2 separate regions of the Homo sapiens genome follow, and region 1 is linked to region 2. A link means that fine-mapping ties the variant in region 2 to the expression of a gene that starts in the linked region. Tissue or cell type: blood mononuclear cells. Region 2 holds a variant in brackets; the other region holds the start of a gene. All regions are shown on one strand. Distances are from middle to middle.

Region 1 (9,767 bases), 95 kb after region 2:
GGTGTGTTTGTAGTGTGTGTGGGCTGTGTGTGTGGTGTGGTGTGTTTGGTGTGTGGGGTGTGTGTGGCGTTTGTGTGTAGTGTGGTGTGTGTGGTGTGCTGTGTGTGGTGTGTTTGTGTGTGGTGTGTTTGTGTGTGTGGTGTGTATAGTGTGGTGTGTGTAGTGTGTTTGTGTGTGTGGTGCGGTGTGTATGCGGTGGGCGTGTGCAGAAACAACAAGCCCCTGCTCCGCATGGGGTGTGGAGCAGATGCTGCGGAAGCCGCCTGGCCTGTGGGCGTTGGCAGTGGGGACCAGCTGACCCAGAGACTCCGCGCTTCCCCGCGCTTCCCCCACCCCCGCCCCACTGCGGCGCTCCGGGGCTCACTGAGTTCCGAATCCACCTCCTGGGATCCGCGCCCTGGCTACCAGGCCCTGAGCCTTCTGCGGGCCAGCGAGCTCCCGCCAGGTTCTGCCAACAGGGGGCCCCAGAGGGCGGCGTGGTGGCCGCAGATCGCAGGACAGGAGCCTGTTCCCGTCAGCAGAGCCCCAATAACCCCCCGGACTCCCAACGGTGGCGCGGTCATGCCCAGTTTTCTAGCTTGCTTCATGCACTCCCAGGACCTGCCTGCCCACATCCCGCCCGGGCCGGCTGGTCCATCTCGGAGATTTGAGTCCAGCTCTCTGGGAGGCCCCAGGGCCAGGCAAGTGCAGAGGTCCGGTTCCACTCCCCAGGGCCCCTTCTCCAGCTTCCAGGACCTCGGTTCTCAGAACCCTCATGACTTCTCTTTGCTCTTTAGAGACCTTCACTGCTTCTATCAGTCACCATATCTGAATCTTGGCTTGCCACTCAATCCTCCAATATCGACCAACAACAGGAGATTCTCTCTATCTGAGGGGGGAGGTGTGTTTCCCTGACTAGACTCTAAATACAAATCCTCCACTTCTCCATCTGTCTCTCCAGTGATCTCAGAGGCATGGTCTTAACACCGCGCACAGTTCCTTGCAAGTTGAAGAGTAGACCCAAATGATCAGTTCTAAAATTCTATTCTTATTGAAGATTACTGGTGGAAATATCAATGCAAACAAAATGAAAAAGTTCAACAATGATTAATACTGCATTTCAACAGAAGAATCAAATCATCTTGACAAAACTTCAATGGGCAAAATTTGCCTTGGGGAATTTTATGCAGGGGAATCCTTGGGTCTGATGTGTGGTGGGCTTTGGATGTGTTGTGTAGCTCAGTGTCCCTTCCTGCTACTCCTAGTCATCTCCAGAAACTCAGACCACCCATCTACTAAAGGCAGGTGGATGAGCAAGGGGGCCTCGGAGGCATTCCGGATCACACTGAACCTGAGCCCCACCGCCTGACCCACTCAGTGTCACTGTTAACAGAAACTCGCTGCCATCTGGCCTCAGGCCTGCCTCCTTCCTATAGAACTTGACACTGGAAGCACCAGGCGAGCTGGACCTTCTGCTGCTACTGCACTCCCATGATGCAGCCTGAGAATGAAGCCCACCAGAGTGACAGAGAGCAGACCTGAGTGGTGAGCTGGTGACACAGGGTGTGGGTGGTGTCCCTTGAGCTTCGACACCACGCCACACCTGAAACCAGCCTGACATCCATGATTTTGCTTTTTTGCTTAAACCAGTCTGCGTCATTTTCAACAAAAGAGTTCTACTAGATATGACAAATTTCTCTAGAAGACCTAAGAAGTGAAAGACTTGAAGCTATTCCAGTGGTTCAGGAACTAGGACACTGGTAGGAAACTGGAAAGAAGGCATCAGAGTTAAGGAAATATTTATGAGGTCAACTCTGGAAGTCTTGGTTACTGAGTGAATACAGTGGCTGAGAGGAATGGAAGCATCCAACCAAATAAAAAAAGATGGTGCTGAGATTTGGGTTATGAGGTCAATGACTGAAGCAATGCGATTAACTGAGTTAGGAGTCTCAAATATAGGATGAGTGCAGAGTTGAGGATGAAGAATTCTGCTTTGGACACAATGAGTGTGAGGTGCCCAAGGATAACCCAACGGGAAGCAGTCACACCAAAGCAACAGGGTGTGCACCTGAAACTCAGAAGGGTGATTGGGCTATGGTGAAGATTCCTGATCACCCATAAATGAATTCATTAAAAGCATGAGAGTGAGTGGAGGGGCCCCTAGAATATGGTGGGTGCATGAGACTAACCCTAGATTGGGGATAGCTCCCTGGGAAATCCAAGGGACAAGGTGAGGAGGAGGAGGCGGAGCCCACCAAGGAAACTAGAAAGAGACCGCTGGAGAGGTCCGAGGACAGCAAGGAGCACAGCCTTCAAGTCTGGGAGCCAACTATCCAAGAAGAGAGTGGTTTGCTATGGATGCCGTGGGCCACCACGTCCCATCTAGGAAAGCAAGTTGAGGTCTCTCTTGAATACATTGGGATTGATTACCCAGACTTTAAAGAATCTATGTCCCCTACTTCCCTTCATTCACTCTGCTCTTTACCTTCTCCTCTTCCCTGGTCACCAGCACCTCTGCTAAAGGGTGGAGAAAGGAACTTCTGATCAGTTACAGAAAAGCTTTGGGGTTACGTGGTGCAAGCTGCTCTGCCTCTGTTTGTGAAGAAATTAGACTATGGCCAGCCATGTGAGTGGCATCACTTTGGTTTCTGGAGCAATAGTTAGTAGCAACTTTTAGAGGTGGTCATTTCGGTTCCCTTCTGGAAAGTGATTCGTGTTTAAGAAAAATAGATGCAACGTTGCTAAGTACACCTAACATTTAAACAGTCTCCAGCAGATAAATGCTGATACTGACACTTCTCACCAGAAAAAGAGAAATACCCATCATGAGGAAGAGAAATGACTTTTGTTCAGTTATGCTCCCGGGTCCCCTTTCACTGGAGGGATATCTCAGCTTTCTGAGCCCCTGGTTACTGCAATCCTCGGTTCCAGAACCCAGCAATTCCTATCATCACAATTGTTTCAAGTCTTATCCAAGCCCTGTATATTTCAGATCATCCTTAATTTCTTGTTCTGTACCCAGAGGAGATCAGGAAAACCTTTAAGTCTCTATGTGAGGCAAATACATCCTCCTCACTGCCCCAGCCCCATGTGATTGATGAAGCAACTGAGGAAGAGAAGTAGGGTGCTTCTGGCACTGGAGGAGCGCAGTGCTGAGAAACTCCGGGCTCCATTCGGAAATAGCACTGATTTCTTAGTGTACTTTTTTTTGGTGTTAATATAGAAAACATCAAAAACACAGTTAAAAGAATGAAGCATGTCTACATACGTGTGGCCAGAAAGACTGACCAGAAGCTGGTAGCAGTGAGGGATGACAGTGCTTGCCCCTGGGTTGAATAGTGGAAGAGTTAGGGGGGAAACAGTCTGCTCTTTGAGACCCTTTCAATTTCATGTGATGGATTTACAGAGACAGATGAATTAAACATTATATAAAAAAGGAATAAAACCACTGGTAGGATCTGTATTCCAGGAAGAAAAAAGCATATTACATAATAGGTCAATGCACAGAAATAAAAAAAGGAATTTAACTAGAGCCTATGCTAATCATAAATCCCTTCCCTGTTCCAGAGTCCTGTTGTCTCTGGGGTCTTGGCCTGTCTTATCTAGGCCATGGAGTGGTGGGGGTGGGATGCTGCTAGTTCCTAGGCAGGAAATAGTGGCCAGTTACCCTTGTGGTGTCATTTCTGGGTCCTGGAAAGGAGACCACTGCTGACCCCTGACTCACCAACCAACAATTATTGATGGAAATCCCACCGGCCTCCCCGGACAAAGGCAGCCCAGACCTGGACTCATTCACATGTAAAGGAAGTGGCCAGAAGTGGCTGCTGTTGGCAGGGGTGAGGGACGGGAGAGCGCGCTAAGTGGCCTGTGTCTGTGGGGGAGGGAGAGGGTGGAGCAGCACAAGCCGGCCTGAGGTTAGGAGCCTGCGGTATCTCCAGGAAAGCAGAGGCGGCTGTGGGGGGCGCCGGGGCTGAAGAGCCAAGTGTGGAGACTGCTCCATCTTGCCCATCTCCAGAAACTCAGACCACCCATCCATTAAAGGCAGGTGGATGAGCAAGGGGGCCTCGCAGGCATTCCAGATCACACTGAACCTGTGCCCCACTGCCTGACCCATTCAGCATCCCTATTAACAGACACTCGCTGCCGTCTGGCCCGGACCCGGCTGGCGCTGCGGGTCCTTCCACCCCAGTTAGGAAGGGTCATGGCTCCCGCGGAAGCCCCTGCCAGGGTGAATAAACTCGGCGTGGGGCTGACGGGCTCTGAATTACTCCGTTGCTTACAAGCCGAGTGCCCCTCTGTGCCTCAGTTTCTCCCTCTATAAAACAATACGAATACCGGCCCAGAAGCGTTGTTGGGCAGATTAAACGAGAAAATCCACTGGAAGTGTTTAACAAACGACACACAATACGGGCTTCATACCTGCCAGCCGATGTCCCCTGCAGCCTTTATTCCCTACCCAATTCCCCTTAGCCTGCTATGTGGAGATACAGGAGGCTTGCACCCGCCGCGGTCCCGGTGTATTTTAACGGGCTCCCGGGGAAGCGGTGTGGAAAATGGATTAGGGAGGGAGGAGGCCAGAGCCTCGGAACCCGGGGAGAGGTCTGCAGGCATCCAGTTGGGAGCTGGAAGGGCGGGACAGGGCCCTTGGCAGGGGGATCCAGGAAATATTTTGGAGAAATTCTCTCTAGGACTTGGTAACAGGTTGAGAGCGGCCACTTGGCCGGGGGCGCCGGCTTCGGAGGCGGGAGGGAGGTGGAGGAAGGGAAGGCAGCTGCAGGGCCGACCTGCGGGGTGGGCGTGAGGCCGGGGGATTGGGGCCGCAGGGGTTCGGCCTGGAGGAGCGGCGTGGGGGCGCCGGGGCCCTGATTCCATCCTGGGCGGGTCGGCCCCGCAGCCGCTGCGCTCGGAACCCCCTAGGCGCCCCGCAGTACCCGGCGTCCTTCCTGCCTCCTCCTCGCCCCTGTCCTCCGTCCGAGCCCCAGTCCCGCCGACCCTGCCGGCGCCTCCGCCCTCCCGCCCTCCCGCCCTCGGTTTCCCACGACCTCGGCGCGACGCGCGCGGGATCCAGTGGAGACTGCTTTCCCATAGGCCGCCATCCAGGGCGGGGAAGGGAGCGGACCCTCCCGGCTCCAGGTGCCTGGGCCCCCGGCGGCCTGCGGAGGCCTCGCCCCACGCCACCCGCCCACTGGCCTCGTCTTCGCGCGGGGGTGAGAGCAAAGGAGGCACTCGGCCCATCGCCAGCCCGGGTCCCCTTCCTGCCCGTCGCTATCCGAGAATTTGCCCCGTGTCCCCCAGGCCGCGGGGGTCCGGAGAACCGAGGGGCGGACCCCGCAGAGGGCTGCGCCGCCCTCCCTTCTCTCCCCGCGGGAAGCAGCCCCCAGGACCGCCCCTCGCTCCCTGCCCGGGAGGGACTGGGCTTCCCCGAGGTGTGCGGCTCCTGGAGAACTCGCTTTCCCGTTTCCAGCCGGCCAAGCCATCAGTTAATCGCTTGCTTTCTCTTTTCTTTACAGAGAAAAGCAGCCTGATTCGGAGGAACGGGTTGCTTGGGGCGGCTCCCAGCTCGAGTTGTGGGCCCCGCCGCGGGTGCCCTTCGGAAACGCGCTGACACCAGGCGAAGCCGCCTCTGCCCGGACGCAGCCCGACACTTGGCCCGCGGGGTTCCCCGGGACGCCTGAGAGTAATGGGCGCGAGGGGGAAAGCCGAACGGCCTCCCTGTGCCCGGCGCAGGCGGTGCCCCCTAGCTGGGTTCGCCGCGGCGGCGCTGCGAGCCCCCGACACTGAGGACTTTTGGTCCAACAGTCCGACGGGGCCCGGTGCGCCGTTCCCTCCGCCCTCTCCCCGCTCCCCGGCCCGCGCGTCTTGGAGGGTGGGTGAATTGTCGGAAGCACTCTACGCCTGGCCAACCCAAACCAGGAACCTCCGCACCAAACAGCCCACGTTGCTGCTGCTCTGGGGTTTTAACGGCCAAGGGAGACTGGAGAAGGGGTGTTCTGCCTTCCCATTCTCTTAGGCCCGTCCACTCCCCATCCCCACAGTTTGGAAGTGGCCTTTTCTGAGGACTCCAGCGCAAAGCATGTTTCTCCTTTTGAGCTGCGGAAGCCTTGCTTGTTCCCGCCATTGGGAGGGCATTCCATCATCTGCAGCTGCCTTCCTCGGTGGGCCTTGTCCCTTAGCGTCCACCTAGGGGACATTCTAAGCTTCTTGAGACCTGCTTGTCCACCCCAACATGTCTCAGCATATGGCTGTGCCCTAAGGGGTCTTTGAGGGCATTTTAGGAGGTGAGCGGCGCCCCTACCTGGGCTCCGCGGGGCCGATTCGGTTTGCCCTTTGCTGGCATGTCAGTGAATTAACTGCTGTCCTTGGGATGACCTGCCCTATGATTTGGCCTCTGGAGCATCCCGGGTGTGTATTTCAGAACTCCTCCCATCTTATCCACCTGCTGAAGGCCTGGCCCCCTGATATGGTTTGGCTCTGTTTCCCCACCCAAATCTCACCTTGAATTTTAATAATCCCCACGTGTCATGGGCGGGACCAGGTGGAGGTAATTGAATCATGGAGGTGGTTTCCTGAACGCTGCTCTCGTGACAGTGAGTTCACAAGATTTTTTTTTTTAACGGAGTATCACTCTGTCACTCAGGCTGGAGTGCAGTGGCGCGATCTTGGTTCACTGCAACCTCTGCCTCCCGGGTTCAAGAGATTCTCCTGCCTCAGCCTCCCGAGTAGCTGGGATTACAGGTGCGCGCCATCACGCCCGGCTAATGTGTATTTTTAGTAGAGAAAGGGTTTCACCATGTTGGTTAGGCTGGTCTGGAACTCCTGACCTTGTGATCTGCCTGCCTCGGCCTCCCAAAGTGCTGGGATTACACGCGTGAGCCACTGTGCCCAGCCGATCTGATGCTTTTATAAAGGGCTTTCCCCGTCCCCCTTCCTCTCTCTCACCACCCTGTGAGAAAGGTGCCTTTCTTCCCCCTTCACGTGAACTGCCTCCATGATTGTAAGCTTCCTGAGGCCTCCCCAGCTATAAGGAACTGTGAGCCAATTAAACTGCTTTATAAATTAACCCAGGTATTTCTCGGGTATTTCTTCATAGCAGCGTGAGAATGGACTGATACACCCCCAATGTGGAGTAGGGGAAGCTGAGGGAGTTAGGAGGTCCCAGCAAGGTGAAGGTGTGATGGGGTCTTGGGACAGTGAGAGTGCTGCCTCAGGCAACAGTGGGCAGGTCATTGAGGCTCCATTGAGCTTGGTGAGCAGGAAGCTGAGAGAGGGAGCTGTCGATTCAGGAGTCAGGGGTGACATGGAAGGAACCTAGGGCTTTGCCAGGCACAGGTGAAGGAAGGCCACTTAGGTACTGGCAGTGGGAAGAGAGGGCAGGGAGTGGTGGACGGAGAGGAAGAGAAAGCTGAACACTGGAGCACAATGCGGGTGCTGGGAGGCAAGCAGAGGGGGCTGGGGGCTTCTCATATGGTGCATCCTGGCATTTATATTTTGAAAAATAATTGTTTTGTTCCCATTAGTGCTTTTATAATAGTTTTAGGAAAGAAGAGAAAATATGAATTAGCTATTATGAGGCTTCTTTTGAAGTTTCTTTCAGTTCAGAAACATATCCCACTTTACAAAAAAATTAAGAAAATTCAAAGTTAAAAAATGTAGGGAGGCCAATAATTTTAGTTGCCAGACATTTTAGTCTGACAAGACAACTCATTGGAGTTTCCTTAGAGACGTATTAGAAATTCAGAGCTGCACACGCATTTTTCCCCCTGCCAGATAAACTGAAACAACATAAAGTGAGTTTTAGTTATTTCTTTCAACGAGACTGCGAGGCCTATTTAGCTAACGAAAAAGATATCTGTAGAAAGAAGCATTCTTGATTCTTATCTACAAGACAGAGCAGCAAAAAACCAAGAATGTCAGATGAGTATTATCTCTGTCCATGGCAGAAAGGTATCATGTTGGTATAATTAAGATTGGTCTTAATGGAAACTTAGGCAATAAATATAAACATCATAGTTTAACCTGCAGCAAAGCAAATAAAATACATGAAATATAATAGAAAAACAATGCAGGCAAAGGCAGGCAGATTGCTTGAGTCCAGAAGTTCGAGACCAGACCTGGGCAACATGGCGAAACCCTGTCTCTAAAAAAAAAAAAAAAAATGCAAAAATTAGCCGGGCAGGGTGGTGCACATCTGTGGTCCCAGCTACTTGGGAGGCTGAGGTGGGAAGATCCCTTGATCCTGGGAGGTCGAGGCTGCAGTGAGCTATGATTGCGCCATTGCACTCCAACCTAGGTGACAGAGTGAGACTCTGTCTTACAAAAAAAGAAAAACAATGCTATGTGTGAATTTTTTTCCAATCTTTTAATAAGGAAAATGTTTTTTTCAAAATAATGGCTTATATGGAGTGTCAACATAAAAACAATATAATTTCAAATTGATAAGTAAAATATAGTCAGCAATCTCACATACATCAAAATTTGGTATATAACACACATTCTGGAGAGGTGTTGCTTTTGGTCTTACTTTTTTTCCATTTTTAAAATTGTAAAACACATACAAAATTTAGCATTTTAATGACTTTTAAGTGTACACTTCAGTGTCATTAAATTCACATTGCTGTGCAACCATCACGACCATCCATCTTCAGGCCACTTTGCATCCTGTGTAACAGAAACTCTACACCCATTAATAACTCCCCTTTCTCCCCTCCCTCCAGCGTCTAGCAACCACCATTCTACTTTGTCTCTATGAATCTGACTAATCTAGGTACTTTATATAAGTGGAATCATACAGTATTTGTCCTTCTGTGTCTGATTTATTTCACTTTGCATACCGTCCTCAAGATTCATCTATGTTGTAGCACGTGTCCGAATTTCCTTTCAAGGCTGAATAATATTCCTGTGTGTGTAATATTTTGCTTATTCATCGATAGGTACTTGGAATGCTTTCTTCGTGTTGTAGCCATTGTGAATAATGCCACTATGAACACAGATGTTCAAATATGCGTGGACATTTTTATAGGAATGTAACAACAACAAAAAGCACACAGTGGGCTCCATCATGAGCTCAGCTGCATACAGAGATGGGGGGCGCTGGAAGTCGTGGTGGGGCAACTGAAGCACCTCTCTGGAAATACTGTGTCCCAGGGGGACAGAAGGTCAGGCAGGTGGGTCCTGCCCAGGGACAAACCTGACAATCACTGGCACATCAGAATTCCTGTGAAACTGCAAAAACAAAAAGGGTGCCTGTGCTGAGCCCTAGACCCCCTGATTCAGTCTCTTGATGAGGACCCTGGACATGTGCATGCTTAAAAGCCTCTCCGGAGGTTCTGACTTGCTACCCTTGGGGCTGGGAACCACACAGCCTGGGACTTGGGAAGGAAGGGCGAATCTGTCTTTCCTCCTAGGGGCAGAGAGTAACTATCAGATGCACTGTTTTCCTAGAGAAACCCTGCAAGACCCTGAGGCAAAATAGCTCTCCTGGGGTGGCCCTTTAGCCAAGCAAAAGTGAGATGTTCTTCCCTCCTGCAACAAATACCAAGTGGAGCCAGCCGTACATGCCACAGTGTACAGGGGCTGTCACCAAGAGGAAAGTGGCTTATGAACCATCCCAGTAAGGCCTCCTAGAAGCACTGGGCAGAGGATGCTTTGCAATCTCTGGTGGAAGATGAAACCAGAAACAAGTCTGTATCCGTGATGATGGAATGAGCAGCAGGCAAGGAGCCTAGAAAGTGATGGGCACTCTTGCTCTTTGAAGGTGTGTGCCTGTCATTGGGGCTGACAGGTTCAGT
Region 2 (10,287 bases):
AGCATCCCTCCCCCATCCAGTCCCTGGTGCTCCTCTGAGTTTGACTTTTTAAGATTCCACATATGAGTGAGATCTTGAGGTATTGTCTTTTGTGCCTGGCTTATTTCAGTTAACATAATGTCCTCCAGGTTTACCCATATAGTTGGAAAATGACGGGGTTCCCTTATTTTTTTAAGGCTGAATACCACATTTTCTTTATCCATTCATTCCATTGATGGACACTTAGATTGATTCCTTATCTTGGCCATTGTGAATAGCGCTTCAGTGAACACAGGAGTAGAGGTATCTCTTGGGCATACTTAGACATACTGATATCATTTCCCATATCCACAAGTGAGATTGCTGGATCACATGGTCATTCTATTTTTAATTTTTTGAGGAGCCACCGACTGTTTTCCATAATGGTTGCACTAATTTACATTTCCACCAACAGTGTGCAAGGGTTCCCTTTTCTCCACATCCTGGCCAACACTTATTATTTTTCATCTTGATAAAACCCTCCTAACACATGTGAGGTGACATCTCATTGTGGTCAAACCACATTTTCTCAGGAGGGATGCAGTATAAATCATTGTTCTGGTGCCTAAAACTTGCCATATGTGAGCAAGTATTTAGCAAGTACTTTAAAAAATGCTGATAGCATTGTTTCCTAAACGTCAAAGTCAGAGACCTCCAACAAACATTTTAACTTTAATTTTTATCAACATATGAACATAGTTTAATACAATTTTAAAAGTGAATGGATTTTACAACAACACAAAACCAAAGTAGTCTTGTCACCCGCCCCACTCACCCTCATTCCCACTCCTATGGCAAACATTTTAACTCTTTTAGTTCCTTCTTCTGATGTTTATGTCCATACTGTGAAGCAACAAGTTTACGTTGCTATTTCCTAATTTTTTCAGTTTTAGATCTCAATTAACTTCTCACCATTAAATATAAATTTTGACTCCTTTTATTTAGACTTCCTCTCCACACTCTCCCAATATAGTTATCTCTACAGTTTAATTTTTGGTTAAATCAAAGTTCGGTTTTTACAATATCATGATTATATAAACAACCAAGTGCAATAGTGTACTTTGTTTTTTTTTTCTTTCATGATCACTATTTTGTTTCCCTGGGAGTTTCTAGTTGCCTTAATTTTCATTTCCTATTGTGTAATGTACCTGTCATTTACTCATCCTCAACTTCTTAGCCTGAGTATACATTTCTCAAAACGTTCCAATACATCAGGTAATCTATGTGACTCCTGTTTTTCTTGGTGATTATCTTCCTAGAGATTTCTGTTTAAATCTATCAGGTATTCTACTCAGTTCTCCCTTTACCATAGATTTCTTTTCCATATCTTTTCCAGAACTTTTCTCTTCCAGTATGGACTGGTGTTTCCTTAGGCCAGCTATAGGGCTGTCATCAACCTAGGGTTCTTCTCCATCAACCCTGGAGTTCTCGTTTTTGATGGATATCCTGTTCCTGTGTCCTACATCTTCCTCATTCCTGGTATGTTTTCTTGCTTGATGACACACAACCTCCACCAGCTTCCTGAAAATAAAATCAATAAAAAGTAGTGGTGTTTTAATTAATATTTTGAGACTGGCATGTCTGAAAATGTGTTTATCTTACTTTCACACTTTTACTGAAAGTAAAATGTTTTTACATTGTGGGTTGGGGGCTAAAAATGCTAGGTTGGAAATCACTTGGAAGGCATCACTCTTCTGGCTTCTAGTCTTGCTCTTGAAAACCCCAGTACCATTCTGATTCCTGCTTGATATGGTTTGGCTGTGTCCCCACCCAAATGTCATCTTGAATTATAGCTCCCATAATCCCCACGTGTTGTGGGAGGTGATTGAATCATGATGGCAGGATTTCCTGTGCTGTTTTTGTGATAGTGAATAAGTCTCATGAGATCCGACAGTTATATAAAGGGAAGTTGCCCCACACATGCTCTCTTGCCTGCCGCCATGTAAGATGTGCCTTTGCTCCTCCTTTGCCTTCCACCATGATTATAAGGCCTCCCCAGCCATGTGGAACTGTGAGTCCATTAAACCTCTTTTCTTTAATAAATTACCCAGTCTTGGGTATGTCTTTATTAACAGTGTAAGAATGGACTAGGGAGGCTGAGGCGGGTGGATCACGAGGTCAGGAGATCGAGACCATCCTGGCTAACACAGTGAAACCCCATCTCTAATAAAAATACAAAAAATTAGCCAGGGGGAGTGGTGGGCACCTGTAGTGCCAGCTGCTAGGGAGGCTGAGGCAGGAGAATGGTGTGAAACTGGGAGGTGGAGCTTGCAGTGAGCCGAGATTGTGCCACTGCACTCCAGCCTGGGTGACAGAGCGAGACTCCGTCTCAAAAAAAAAAAAGAAAAAAGAGAATGGGCTAATACACTGCTCCTTTATGTGGCTCTGGTTGTCTCTCCAGAAGATTTAGAGTTTTCTCACTTTTCCCAGTATTTTGAAATCCCAAGGTGATCTGTTGTCATAATACTACAGTAGTTGGTGGGACTCTTGTAATAGATTCATCTGCCCAATGCACAGCAAGTCAATATGCTGAGACACCAGGGAGCAGCAGAGAACAAATTAAATAATTATAGGGCAGCCTAATGAGATGGGAGGAAACCGCACATCCACCTCCCTGAGGAGTTTGGGGCTAGGGATGTTAAGGGGTTTGGAGTGGACTGAGGTGTGGGGATCATTGATTGATTGATGAATTCAGGGTAAAGTCATGGGAAGGGGAGATGAAGAAACATTCTCATGCTGATATAGTTCTTCTATAAGGGTTTTCACACTGGTTGATGTCAGCTGTTCTGCTAGAATTCAGAATCTGAAAAACATTGTAAGCAATTCTTAAGCAAAAGCTCTATGATTCTAGCATCAGAGATCCTCTTTATCTTCCAACTTTTATGAGAAAGTTTTAAAATTTCATGTTATCATTTTTATGTGTTCCTCTTAATATGGCACCTTGATCTTGTTTTATGGATGCAACATCTCCCTTTTTCACTAAAAAATAAATTACAAATTTTATAAAGGTATCTTGTTCTCTATATTACCTCTCATTCCTTTATTATGTTTTTTTCTTTCTTTCGTAAAGACTTTCCTCAAATATCTGCTACTCCTGAGTCCATTCATATTTAAAGGGCAAATGGCTAGACTAAAAAGATGATTGGAAGCCAGGTGTGGTGGCTCATGCCTATAATCCCAGCACTTTGGGAGGCAAAGGTGGGAGGATTGCTGGAGCCCAGGAGTTCGAGAAAAGCCTAGGTAACAAAGCAAGACCCTGTCTCTACAAAAAAAATTTAAAAATTAGCTGGGCATGATGGCACATGCCTGTAGATCCAGCTACTTGGGAGGCTGAGGTGGGAGGATGGCTTGAGCCTGGGAAGTCAAAGTGGCAGTGAGCCATGATAACCCCACTGCACTCCAGCCTGGGTGAAACCACAAGACCCTGTCTCAAAATTTAAAAATAAACAAACAAACAAATAAATTAGGTTATTGGAAACTCTGCATGCAAAGGTTTCTCTTTCAGTAGGACTTCCCAGAAGGAAACTGGCTATTTTGTTGAGGAACTCTTAAACATTATTATCTGCAAATCCTATCTCTGGGATTGATGAGTTTCCCCAGAGAAGAATTCTCTAATTTCCTGAGCCTGGCCTAGTTCACAGCCAAGTGAGGAAAGGGGATGCCACAGGGCTTGATTTTTATTACACTCCACTGTTTTCACCTAGACCTGGGTCCTGAGCCTGGACTCCCTTTCCTTTGTCTTCTCTAGAAAGTGACAACAACTCCCCCCATCCACTTGTCTTCTTCTGGATGAGGGAGGGGTGGTCCCAGTCCTGAGTGAGGTAAGCAAGGGAATCTCTGACTTCTTCTTTTATAGATTTTCAATTAATCCTCTCATTTTTAGCCCACTGGGATATTCCCCATGAGCAATGCCCTATGCTTCCACTTCCCAAGACTCCCTGGGTTCTGCGTTGTGAATCTGCCCAGCAGCTCCTGCCCCAGCCCTTGAAGTGCTAGCTTTCTGCATCCTGTG[G/A]TCTGTTCACTTACTCACTGCTAGATCTGACTTCCTCTTGCAGTCATTCAGTTGACCTCTCTCTGCTGTGACTCCTTTCATGTTCTCTTCGCTTTTGTGCGCCAATGTCTTTTTGTCCCTTTCCTGTCACTTTCATGGAGGGTTAGGAGGGAATAGAGACAAATGGCTGTGTGCAATTCATCATGCTTACATAAATTTCCATAAAGCCACAGCTCCTGATGTTGTTAACCGTCCCACCTGTGTGTTTCTTATCCACCCTCACCCCGCACTGGGGACAATCCCATTGTCTGCTAACTGCTTACCACATTTCCAGTGAAATGACCTTGCCTTTCATTTGGATTTGGGGAGGGGCAGAGTGTTAGGATCTGCATAACAAGATCCCCCACTTTCAATGTAGAATCAAGAATGGGAAATAAAGCAACCCTTGCTAGTTTCCAAAGTATTAGATACCGCTCCTGGGTCTCAGTAACTCTGAATATGCCAGACTTTTATCAAGGAGTAAAACAGTCACCCACGCCTTTGTGAAAGCTCGCAAGTTTGAAATTGTGCCGAATGAGGAAAAGCTTCCACACCAGACAGTTCCAGGTGCCCCTCTGAAAGAGTTATCCCTTTGCCTCAAAAAGAAAACAAGACACAACAAAAAACAAACAAAAAAACCCCCCAAGAAACAATGACAACAACAACAACAAAACCCTCTGTGGTCACAATGGAGAAAAGGTAGGACTAGGGGGCAGCGGGGCTTGAGAACCCTGCCCTCAAATGTTTATATAAAAGGAAGAGCTGCCTGGCACGGTGGTAACTGAGCTGTGTCCCTTCCAGGCTGAGCTCTGTCTTCAGCTGGACAATTTGAGCCAGCTGTGCCTGTTTCTTCCCCAGGGCTGAGAAGGCTTTTATTCACAGGCAGTTTCCTGGGATTGCCATTAGTGAAGACAGGGATCAAGGACTCACAGACAATGCCCTGCAAAGACAGCCACTCCCTTGGCAATTGGGGCAGAGTTTGCATCTTGGAGCTGGAACCTTGGCGGCCCCTGAGCACAGTGTTCTGGAGGAGTCTGTGCTGAAGGGCAGCCTGGAAGCCTGTGGGACATTGGGAACGGTACCAGCTGGGGCCTGGGCTTGCCCCTGGGTACAGAATGTTTTATTCAGTGGGCAAAGCAGTGCCAGGGTGGATGAATAAAGCCTTCAGATTCTGCATGGGGGTTTGTTTAACTCTCCCCCTTCTCATCCTCTGAACACAGCCAGAGGCATTTGGAACATGGCCCATATGATCATATCATTGGTGACAATGGAATCCAGGCCACCCAAAATCAATGAGTCTCTAACAAGGCACAACTGGCTGCTGGGACTTGTCTCCAGCATTGCAACATTGCCAGCTATTCTTTGTCTAAGTGCACTCATGTTAATGTGTAAGCCATTTCCTTCCCAGTGAGAAGGTTCTTTGTGAGATTGCTCTGTATGCTCACACTTGGAGACTGAAAGTTGGACTCGTAGGTACTGAGCGTCTTGTTGTGGAGACCAGATGCAATGCCTGGGCCTCCTGCTCCAGCTCCCATCCAGCCCTGGGTCAAAGCCTGCAGGCGAAGGACAGGACAGCAGAGTGAGCTCCAGGATGTGGAGGAAGGAAGATGAGGTGTGGTGGGGAAAGGGTAAGTGGGTGTGGAGGGTAGAAAAGTGTCCCCGAAAAGATAGCTCCAAGTCCTTACCCCGGTCCTTGCAAATGTGACCTTATTTGGAAATGAGATTTTTGCAGATATGATCTAGTTAAAGGTCTCAAGATGAGATCATCCTGGATTTAGGGTGGGACCTAAGTCCATTGACTAGTAGATATTTTTGCAAGAGAAAGGAGAAGATTTGAGACACAGAGAGACACAGAGGGAAGAAAGCCGTGTGAACTTGGACTCAGAGATGGGAGTGATGCTGTCACAGCTAAGAAATGCCAGGAAGCACCACAAGTTGGAAGAGGCAAGGGAGGGATCCCCCCCAGAACCTTCAGAGAGATCGTGGCCCTGCCAACACATTGATTTTGGACTTTTGGTCTCCAAAACTGTGAGAGAGGAAGTTTCTCTTGTTTGTTTTTTGTTGTTGGTGGTGGTGGTTTTTTGTTTTTTGTTTTAGATGGAGTCTCGCTCTGTCGCCCAGGCTGGAGTGCAGTGGTGCGATCTCGGCTCACCGCAAGCTCCGCCTCCCGGGTTCACCATTCTCCTGCCTCAGCCTTCCATGGAGCTGGGACTACAGGTGCCCGCCAACACACTCGGCTTTTTTTTTTTTTTTTTTTTTTTTTGTATTTTTAGTAGAGACGTGGTTTCACCATGTTAGTTCTCTTGTTTTAAGCTGCCACATTTGTGGTACTTTTGTTATGGCAGCCCTAAGGAGCTAATTCACAGGAGAGATGGGGAAGGGAAGAGGCAAGAAGATAGAAAGATGAGGAGGTGGGGACAGGGACAGCCATGCAGGCTGAGGCAGCAGGGGTGGAACAGCTCCCCTCCCTGTCATAGTCGCTTCATAACAAAATATCCTGGACTGGTGGCTTAAACAACAGAAATTAATTTTCTCAGAGTTCTGGAGGCTGGAAGTGAAAGATGAGGGTGCCAGCATGGTCAGTTTCTGGTGAGGGCTCTCTTTCTGACTGGTAAACGGCTGCCTTCTGGCTGTGTCCTCGTAGGAGAACAGAAGGCAAAGGAAAGCTCTCTAGCTTCTCTTCCACCACGAGCTTCAAATCTAAACCTGATTATCTCCCAAACACCATCACTTTGGGGGTTAGGGTGTCAACATATGAGTTTAGGGAGGATGCAATTCAGTTGATAGCAGGCCTTCATGCATGGGTGTCCCAGCATAGGTCTGGCAGTTTAGAGGCCAGAACTACACGGAATCTTGCTATGCAAAATGGGCAAAAACACCATTGATTGAAGGATAATTTAACCCGGAGCAGAGAAGTTACATTGAGAATCGAAAAATGACACCCTTGCCTTGGGGTTAACGAGGCTGAAAATAAAGACTAAACCAGCAGTAGTCTGGATGAAGGTGAAGGCAGGTGGGGCATCATTCATCAGACCTGGGAAGTGGGGGCGCAGGGCTTATCTGTTTGGGCCTCATCACTGCTCTCCCTATCATCTCCTGTCAGAAATAATTCCCTGACTGGTGTCCCTTCCGTTTCGGGATGAATTGTCCTCCAGCTGCTCCTGATTCCTGCGTTAAAGTCCTGGTGTGATGGCTCACATCTGTCATCCCTGCACTTTGAGAGGTGAGAGGATTGCTTGAGGCCAGGGGTTCAAGACCAGCCTGGGCAACACAGTGAGACCCCATGTCCACAATAAAAGAAATTAGCCAGGCATGGTGGTGGATGCCTGTAGTCCCAGCTACTCAGGAGGCTGAGGCAGGAGGATTGCTCGAGCCCAGGAGTTGGAGGCTACAATGAGCTGTGATTGTGCCACCGCATTCCAGGCTGGGTGACAGAGTGAGACTCTGTCTCAAAACAAAAACAAAAACAAAGACAAAAACAAATCCTAACCCTTTAGTACTTCAGAATAAGACTGTATTTGGAGATAAGGCCTTTAAAGAGGCAATTATGTTAATGAGGTCATTAGGGTGGGTCCTGATCCAATATGATGGATGTCCTTGTAAGAAAAGGGAACTAGGACGCAGACATGTGCAGAGGAAAGACCATGCAAAGACACAGGGAGAAGACGGCCCTCTGCCAGTCAAGGAGACAGGCATCAGAAAAAAATCAATCCTGCCAACACCTTGATCTCGGCAAAGCTCCAGGCATGTGAGAAAATAAGTTCTGCGGCAGCCACCCAGGCTGTGGTAGTTTGTTATGGCAACCATCACCCACTAAGACACCGTCTCCAAGACCCTCCTCTATAGACAGACACCTGATGCCCAGGCCACCCCTCAGATGCCAGGGGAAGCTGGCTGGGAAGGGCATGGGCTTTGGAGCCACCAGCTACACCCTGGAATCTCTGTTCATGGCCTTCTAACTGTGGGACCTTGAGCAAGTTACTCCATCTCTTTAGTCTTGGAGATCCATAAAGCTGGAGGTAATGAACTCTCCCCAGAGCTGTGCAAATTAAATGAACTAACAAGTAAAAAGATAGATTTATTTATTTATTTTAGACAGGGCCTCCCTCTGTCACCCAGGCTGGAGTGAGTGCAGTGTGCGATCACAGCTCACTGCAGCCTCGACTTCCCAGGCTCAACTGATCTCAGCCTCTGAAGGAGCTGGGATTACAGGTGTGTGCCACCATGCCCAGCTAATTTTTTCATCTTTTGTATGTTGCCCAGGCTGATCTCAAACTTCTGGGCTTAAGAGATCCTCCTGCCTTGGCCTCCTGAAGTGCTGGGATTATAAGCATGAGTCACCTCGCCCAGCCATGTAAAAAGATTTAATATGCCTGAGGCCCAAGGACTCTAATACGTTCTCCAATTTTACCTACTCTAGGGGACATTTGCTGTGTTTTGCAGCCACACTGGGCAGCCTGTCTCTTTGGAGGAAATGCCAAGATCTGCGGGGGTCTGGCCCTGTTTCCCACTGTGTGCAGATGAATCTTCTAACCACCTGTCTTCTGGAAGTGGGGACAGGAAGTGGAGCCAGTTCTGCCAGGTCCTCCCATTCAGATGGTGGGCTCCTGAAGAAGTGACATAGAGAACTCATGGAGGTGACAGTGGAGACAGGCTCCCAGCGGAGGGCAGCAAGGACCAATGATGGTGTGAGTGTCCACTGAGAGTGCCATTGGTGGCGTCCCAGGCAGCAGGTTCTGTAGGATGACCTCACTGTCATCTATGCTTGTTTCCCTGCTTGCAGTCAATCTCCTTGTCCTCTGCCTTGTCCTCTTGGGGCCTGTTCTTGGCTGGCAATCATATTGGAAAGTTATCTAACAAATTATTTCACACTAAAGTGAGAAAGATTTAGATAAGTAGTCATTTTCCTAAAGGCACTTGCATTTTAAGAAGGGAAAGGAAACAGGTAAGGCTAAGCATTTCATTTAACTGGCAGTGGAAAACGTAATCATTTTTAAAAATAATTTATAATTTTATAATTTTTAATTTTTTTTTTATAGAGACAAGGTCTCTCTATATTGCCCAGGCTTGTCAACTCCTGGCCTCAAGTGATCCTCCTGCTTTCGCAAATCCCAAAGTGCTGGGATTACAGGTGTGAGCCACCATTGTCCGGCAGGGAAAGTTCATTTTTAAGGCTGACTATGTATGTACCAAGGGCCTATTATTCCCCTGGGATGCTGGTGTTCAAGGCATTGTCTAGTCTGGCATAGGTGAGGCACATTCATTTGAGTGGCCACCTCCCATGTTGCCTACTCGGCTGGCACGGTGGAGAGCTTAGCTGTCTTTTGAGTCTGTGACTTGTTTAGACTTTACTGGTTTAATCAGAAGGCTCTGAATTTCATACTTAAATTCCCATTCAGGTGTCTGGCTGACCAACATTGGCAGGTAAAGGTAACATTTTGGTCAGATGAGGAAGGGGGTGCCGGGAGGCAACAAAGAGGTATTTTCCCCAGTGTCTTACTCCTTTGTTCAGTTTTGATGACATGTAGCACGACTAAGAAAAGAACTTCTAGGCCAGTCCAGTGGTGCAGGGTGTGGGTAGGGTAGAGAACCGTACAAGATGGAGATCCCAAAGAGAGCCTGTGCCCAAATGCAAATTCCTGGTCAATTATTTCAGCCAGTTCACAGTGACTGCCTGCTTCTCCCTGCGTTATTTTCACTGGGACCTGAATCAACTCTTGATTCTTGAATCTAGAGAAGGGAAAGGAATCCAGGACAGAAGGTGGGCAAAAAAGGCAGGAGCGCGAGGTGGCTGGGAAACGGGCGTTCTCCATTCATTTCTCACTTCCAAGTCTGACCTAAGCAGGTCTAGCAGGAAGGGCAGATTATCACGCGCAGCAAAGAGACAGGACTGAAGTTTGGCAAGTAGCACAATCCCATCCTCAGGCTCTTTATTTATGTCACTGCCATGAAATCCACTTTGTGAAACAGGGGGCCTTGTCTGTCTGCTCAAGACATGTCTGGGAGAAGAGGTGGACACCTTCTCCACATCGAGAAGTCAGGGTGCCCTGAGCTTCTGCTATGGCGCTTACCCAGAACCTGGGGAGAGAGGCTGCTGCCAAAGAAACAAATACGTGGGTGTCTTTCCTGGTTCCCAAAGGGCTGACCTTAGAGTCACCCGATTGTGCTGCTTACATCCCTCCAGGGCTTTGAAACACATGCTTAGCTCTTGTGGCTAAGAAATGGACACTGCTGAAACG

Evidence for each region. PIP is the estimated chance that this variant, and not a neighbour inherited with it, causes the effect.
Region 1: LINC00092 starts here. The variant in region 2 is fine-mapped to the expression of LINC00092 in blood mononuclear cells (TOPMed, PIP 0.90).

What each region holds. Positions count from the first base shown.
Region 1 is chr9:96,017,004-96,026,770 of GRCh38, reverse strand. LINC00092 (long intergenic non-protein coding RNA 92) reads left to right here and starts at 4,960. Exons shown (of 2, transcript NR_024129.2): 1 at 4,960-5,186; 2 at 5,490-7,039. ERCC6L2 (ERCC excision repair 6 like 2) reads right to left here. Exons shown (of 19, transcript NM_020207.7): 19 at 8,324-9,767. It overlaps LOC105376159 (a long non-coding RNA gene), which reads left to right. Exons shown (of 2, transcript NR_188619.1): 2 at 777-3,511. RefSeq lists enhancers at 1-508, 507-566, 3,538-4,038, 5,471-5,520 and a silencer at 5,731-5,780.
Region 2 is chr9:96,111,619-96,121,905 of GRCh38, reverse strand. It overlaps LOC158434 (a long non-coding RNA gene), which reads left to right and starts at 5,495. Exons shown (of 3, transcript NR_132344.1): 1 at 5,495-5,660; 2 at 7,152-7,271. The variant G/A (reference allele first, on the strand shown) is at 4,031.